2 separate regions of the Homo sapiens genome follow, and region 1 is reported to be linked to region 2. The links are microRNA targets in miRTarBase. Many come from high-throughput screens and were not tested one by one. Region 2 holds a microRNA gene; the other region holds the end of a gene's coding sequence.
The links. Region 2 holds the annotated microRNA hsa-miR-4758-5p (GUGAGUGGGAGCCGGUGGGGCUG, at 1,892-1,914, opposite strand). A microRNA usually pairs through its seed, bases 2 to 8, with sites in the 3' UTR of a target mRNA and lowers its output. Matches are read on the target gene's strand: a 7mer-m8 pairs with bases 2 to 8, a 7mer-A1 pairs with bases 2 to 7 and ends in A, and an 8mer does both.

Region 1 (3,512 bases), not on the chromosome of region 2:
CAGTCAGCGTGACCCTGTTATTTTTGGTTTAACCCAGGGACAGGCGTGTCCTGCCCCATGGCTTGTGACATACTTAATCATGTTGGAGGCAGGACAGAGTGTCTGTTTTGCTTGTGGTGCCTGTGGTTTGCCTCTTCTAGGCTTTGGGAATGTAACAGACTAGACCCCAGGACCCCTTTTTTGCGGGAGGGGTGGCTGTGCTGTGCCACTCGCTCTGCGGTGCTGTCTCTACGTCTTCAGTCGCAGCTGGGGGGTGAGGAGAGGCGTGCAGTGGGAGCTCCCAACCCCACCCTCCGCTCCCTGCCCTCTGCCTTTGGGCCCCAGCAATGGCCGCTGACTCTGCTGGTGTTGGTTTCAGATATTTGGCATCTTCCTGGCAAGGACGCTGATCTCAGACATCGAGGCAGTGAAGGCCGGCCATCACTTCTGAGGAGCAGAGTTGAGGGAGCCGAGCTGAGCCACGCTGGGAGGCCAGAGCCTTTCTCTGCCATCAGCCCTACGTCCAGAGGGAGAGGAGCCGACACCCCCAGAGCCAGTGCCCCATCTTAAGCATCAGCGTGACGTGACCTCTCTGTTTCTGCTTGCTGGTGCTGAAGACCAAGGGTCCCCCTTGTTACCTGCCCAAACTTGTGACTGCATCCCTCTGGAGTCTACCCAGAGACAGAGAATGTGTCTTTATGTGGGAGTGGTGACTCTGAAAGACAGAGAGGGCTCCTGTGGCTGCCAGGAGGGCTTGACTCAGACCCCCTGCAGCTCAAGCATGTCTGCAGGACACCCTGGTCCCCTCTCCACTGGCATCCAGACATCTGCTTTGGGTCATCCACATCTGTGGGTGGGCCGTGGGTAGAGGGACCCACAGGCGTGGACAGGGCATCTCTCTCCATCAAGCAAAGCAGCATGGGGGCCTGCCCGTAACGGGAGGCGGACGTGGCCCCGCTGGGCCTCTGAGTGCCAGCGCAGTCTGCTGGGACATGCACATATCAGGGGTTGTTTGCAGGATCCTCAGCCATGTTCAAGTGAAGTAAGCCTGAGCCAGTGCGTGGACTGGTGCCACGGGAGTGCCTTGTCCACTGTCCCCCTGTGTCCACCAGCTATTCTCCTGGCGCCGGAACTGCCTCTGGTCTTGATAGCATTAAGCCCTGATGGCGCCGGTGGCGCGGTGGGCATGGTTCTTCACTGAGAGCCGGCTCTCCTTTTCTTAAAGTGTGTAAATAGTTTATTTATAGGGGTAAGAATGTTCTCACACCATTTCACTTCCTCTTCCTCTCCTCCAGCATTCTCCTCTGAGCAGCCTTAGATAGTGTCCATGGCTGGAGCCGACCCTTTGAGTCCCCTTGAGTGTCTTAAGAACCAGCCCACAACAGCCTCTCTTTCTCCTCCACATACTGCAGCCTCCCTCCATGCATCCCACATACAAGCACTCCCCCACTCCCCAGCGTGGCCTCACTGTCTTCTGGTCTTGGTGCTACTGAAATTGTCACCCAGAATTTGAATCCTGACCCTCCCCACTGCAAGCCCAGGGAGCCCCAGCCCAAGATGGCCAGCCTGAAACTGTTGGCCAGGGCTCCTCTTGTGGCCATGTACCCAGGGCTGGCTGGCCTGCCATTTGCCTCTCCCCGGAGACAGCCGTTCTTCTGCAACCACACCCCGTGCCTAGCCACAACCCCAGGCTGCAGCTGCTCAGAAGCTCCAGGCATTTTGTTTCTGGTGACCGCCCCTAATGGGATATCGGTGATCACTGGTCCACCCTTCCTGTCAGGGCTTTTCTGGGGCTGCTCTTGGAAATGAAGTCTTAAGTACTGAATAACTCCCCTGGGGATAGCTGGGGCATTTGTCTAGCTGGGCTACTTTCTAACACTTTGCCATAGCTCAGACCACTTCTCATCGTTCAGGGATGGACTGCAACCTTAATTTACTTGCCGGAGTGTACATTCTAGTGTGGTGTATACTGGTGGCTGTTGATGATGATTTTTTTTTTTTTACACAATTCTCTGTAGACTAGGAGAAGAATGCTTGTGTTTTTCGGAAGTGTGATGCTTCTCTTTGACTGCCAAACTCTTTTATGGAATATATCTTTATATTAATGCTGTTTTGGTCATTTTTGTTTGGGGTCACTATTGAGATATTGCTAAGCATCTCAGTGGTAAACGCGGCTGCCAGAGGAACCAAGGGATAGGGTATGTAGACCTTACAGAAGGATGGATGGTAAAGGCAGTCCATCATCAGCACAATCTGACTTACATTTCATTGAGTAATTTTTTTTTTTTTTAAGATTCTGTATGGCAGCACTTTCAGTTGCCCTTGTGTGCCGGCCACAGCCGCACAAGTTGGCTTGTGGTTTATCCCCCGCTATAAGTGAGAGCTGGAGAAACTTCAACTCCATAGGTCTAGAGGAAACATTGTTTTAGGTTATTTCTGTCCACCCCTGTGCGATACTATTTATTGATCCAAGCAGAAGAGCTTGGGGACACTGAGTCGAAGTGGGGACATGGGATTGAAGCCTGGGCACTGCTGCTGCATGAGCTGTGTGTCCTGGGTGTGCCGGCCTTTCTGTGAAGGGGGTTGGTGGCAGTGCCCACCTCACTAGATGCCTCTGACCCAGCCTCCCCTGGGGGAGTGGGTGGCCACAGACCCTCCCTGCCAGAGCTCCTGGAAGGCTCCTGCAGGCCTGACCCATCTATTCCTGTAGACCTGGTTTAGGATGAAGTCTCGGTGCGATTTTTGCAGAGTTGGGTTTATCTTTCAACTATAGACCCTTCTGGCTGTTCTCAGCCATATCATGTGACTCTGAATAGTTGGATGAGGAATGGAAAGAAAGCAAGGATGAGAGCCGGTCACGTGGCAGTCTCCGCCCAGCATCGGCTGTCCGCACAGAGGCACAGGGCAGGCCTCCTGTGCACTCCCCACCTAGCACTGGCCTGTCCTGAATCCCCGCCTTCCCTGGTTGGAGGCCAGCTGTGGCATTTGCACCCTCTTCTCACCTCACCATGCACATGCTAACTTTAAAGCCTTGGGGTCTTTCCTGTACCCCCTCCTCAACCCTGGTCCACCCCCTCTCAGGATCTTGTCAACGTTATTTTTCCTGTCCCGTCTTCCTATCGCTGGCCTTCCTTTCCCATCCTAAAAACTTGCCGAGGCCCTATGGCTCCCTCCCTTTCTTTCCCAGGCAGCTTCTTATCTGGGCTGTCTGTACCCCTTCCTTTGCACCACCCACCATGCCCCACGTAGCTGAAAGCTGCTTATCCCAATTGTCAACTCTGGCCTTCTTCAGCCTCTGTAGCACCAGACACTGCACCTCCTGAATGTCCTCTGCTTCTCTGCTTCAGAGGCCCAGGCTCGCCAGTTCTCTGACCTCTCCCATATGTCTGCTTAGGACTCTGCTGCAGCTGTCCTCACCAGCCTCCGGGGAATCCCACTACCCACAGGGCAGGGCTGTGGGCTGGGCTGAAAAACCATCTGCATGGTCCACAAGAAGCCTGGCACTGGGTTTCCCCATGAATAACAATGAAAAT
Region 2 (3,000 bases):
TGAGCTATGAGCCCCTGCTGCCCCCTGGACAACCTGCCCTGGGTTGGGACCCGGAGTCCTGCCCTGACACCCCCGTCCCTCTAGAGACTATGGCCCTCACCTGGGGCTCACGCAGCAGGGTGGGCTCTGCATCAGGGTCCACAGCGGTGGGGGGCCGAGGTCGGGGTCCAGCTGGGGACATGGCTGGAGTGAGATCCTGCGCGTGGGTCAGCGGGAGGCCGGGCGGCAGCGGGATCACCTGGCAGTCCCTGAGGATGATGGGCTGGGGCGGCTTTGGGAAGCGCGAGGGCAGACAGGCGGCACTGGTGAGAGCACAGTGGGTGAGTCAGAGCCGGCCCTGCCGCCGGGCCCTCGGCCGCGCCCCTCCCAGCCCCATTACCTGCCATTACCTGTTGGGGCCAAAGGCGCCGTGGCTGCTGATGCAGCTGACCCGGGGCTCCACGAACTCCGGGCTGAACTCCTCAATGGGCACCAGAGTGACCCCGTGCTGCAGGCAGAGGGACGAGATGCTGCAACGCCCGTGGTGCGGGGAGGATAGGGGGTGCAGGCGGTACGATGGGGGGGTGCAGGCGGTACGATGGGGGGGTGCAGGCGGTACGATGGGGAGTGCAGGCGGTACGATGGGGGGGGTGCAGGCGGTACGATGGGGGGGTGTAGGCGGTACGATGGGGGGTGCAGGCGGTACGATGGGGGGGCCGGTCACACAGCTCAGACCCAGGAAACTGCAAACCCAGGCGTCCGACCGAGCCCTGCTCTTTCCAAGATGCCCTTGCTCCTCCTCCAGCTGCACAAACCCCAACCGCAGACCAGCGTGTTGGCCAGTTCCTGGGCCCACAGGCCTATGCGGCTCCTCCCATAGCCCTCTTCCTCCCCCTCGCCCTCCCATCCGTCACTGTTCCCCCACTCTTATCTCGAGTGCTGCTTGGTGCCACCAGGCCGGGCCAGGCCCAGCTCTCCCAGGACCTGACCCAGGCAGGCACTCAGCAGGCACAAGCCGCAAATGGGTGCTCCCTTTCCGTGCGGCCATGTGAGGTTGGTGTCTCGGAACACGGCAACTTATCCGCTGACACAACGGTGGGAGACGCGGCTGCACAGAACATGTTGTGTGGCATTTATAGAAAGTGCCAGGCCAGGTATGGTGGCTCCTGTCTGTAATCCCAGCATTTTGGGAGGCCCAAGAGGGCGGATCACCTGAGGTCAGGAGTTTGAGAATAGCCTGGCCAATATGGTGAAACCCTGTCTCTCCTAAAAATACGAAAATTAGCCAGGCGTGGTGGTGAGTGCCTATAGTCTCAGGTACTTGGGAGACTGAGGCACGAGAATCGCTTGAACCCAGGAGGTGGAGGTTGCAGTGAGCCAAGATCTTGCCATTGCGCTCCAGCCTGGGCGACAGAGTGAGACTCCATTTCAAAAAAAAAAAAAAAGAAAAGAAAGTTCCAGAACAGGCAACCAACGCTGTCTGTGCCAGGAGGTGGCTGCCCTGGGGCCAGGGAGCTGTGACTGCAGGTGCTTTCCTGAGCACATGGAACAGCTCGGGGGTACGTCAAAAGGGACTGAATCCACAAAACGCTTGCAGGAGGGGTTCCAGAAGAAACATGCTGGGCTGGGCATGAGCGAGTGTGGCCGCCTTGGGGACCTGGGACCCCAACTGTCCTCTCCCCTCTCATGCATGTTTCAAATCTTCTGAAAGAAGCTGACCCCTTGGGGTGGGGACCTGAGGGGTCCTTACCAGGAAGAAGCGTGCCTGTTCGGCTGTGAGCCTCACGCTGGCCTCCGAGTCCAGGTGGAAGACAGCCAGGTGGTCCTGGGTATCCCGGGCAGTGCCCCGGCACAGGGTGCTGTGGGGGGAGGGTGGTCAGCAGGTGGGGCAGCCCCGGGCGTGCCCTTACTCCAGCCCCACCGGCTCCCACTCACCTGTACAGGCAGGGGTGCAGGGAGAGCAGCCCCTGCTGGGGGGCCCGCTGTGGGGTGTGCACGGCCACGCCCACCTCCTGGCGGGCATCCTCATTGGCGTACTCCACCACTAGGGCATAGCGGCCTGGCTGTGGCACTGCCACTTGAAGCTGGACGTCCACCTGCAGGGAAGGCAGGGTGACGGGAGGCCCGCCACCCCTCGCCCTTCCCACCTCCCTCCCCTCCCACTCCAGCGCCTCCCTGACCCCAGGGCCTGCCCTTCAGCCGAGTCCCACCCTGGCCCGGACATCTCCAGGCAAGTGGTGGGGGCTGAGCTGTATGTGGAGGCCACAGCCAATCCTACATACAGACAGGCACTGAGGTCACACATGCAGGAGGCAGGAGGCAGGAGGCAGGGGCGCCCTGCCTGGGTGCTGGGCTCCATTGCCTGAGGCAGCGCCCTGCTCCTATAACCTGCCACCGCCACAGGACCCCCAGCCCCCAGGCCAAGGTCCTGCAACACCCATTGCTCCGTGGGGTCCCAGGACACGCACATCACTGCCCGTGCAGGTGATCAGTGGCGGGTGCGACGGGCTGAGCTGCTCCGTGGGGCAGGGCCGGGGCAGGCTGTTGTCCTGGCGACACAGGGCCTCCAGCCCGGCGGCCGAGGGGAAGCCATCCAGGGGGAGGTGTGTGTAGAGGAGGCAGCTGGGGGGACACAGGCCGTGGTCAGCCCCAGGTCCACCCAGGTCCCCAGAGACAGCCTGAGTGGGGGAAGCCAGGCACAGTGGGGGTCCAGGAAGCCCCCACCCCGGTCCCACCGCACGCATGGCCCTCACTTGTCGCCAGACTGCTGGGCAGAGGGACGGTATGTGCAGGCCTCAGTCACCCGCAGCTGCAGGAGCGCCGCCTCGTAGTATGCGCTAGGCAGCAGAACCACGTAGTCCTGCAGGGTGGAGGTGGTGCTGAGAGTGGTGGGCCCCACCCCCTGACCCGGCCCCCAGCCCTCACTCTGGCCCCTGCCTCACCAGGAGCACCCCTTCGGCCTCCACACGCAGGGCCCAGGTGCCAGGGTTCAGCACAAAGGGCTCTCCGAAGCCCCTCTGG

Region 1: the mRNA of TSPAN14 is a reported target of hsa-miR-4758-5p. The part of its 3' UTR that is shown has no 7-base or 8-base seed match.

The regions. Positions count from the first base shown.
Region 1 is chr10:80,517,547-80,521,058 of GRCh38, forward strand. It overlaps TSPAN14 (tetraspanin 14), which reads left to right. Exons shown (of 9, transcript NM_030927.4): 9 at 359-3,512. The coding sequence ends at 430. Among named protein-coding and RNA genes, the nearest start is that of TSPAN14-AS1, 17 kb to the right of the region's middle.
Region 2 is chr20:62,330,643-62,333,642 of GRCh38, forward strand. MIR4758 (microRNA 4758) reads right to left here and starts at 1,915; the gene lies at 1,845-1,915. LAMA5 (laminin subunit alpha 5) reads right to left here. Exons shown (of 80, transcript NM_005560.6): 24 at 2,922-3,000; 25 at 2,733-2,839; 26 at 2,448-2,601; 27 at 1,915-2,075; 28 at 1,730-1,838; 29 at 390-487; 30 at 101-302.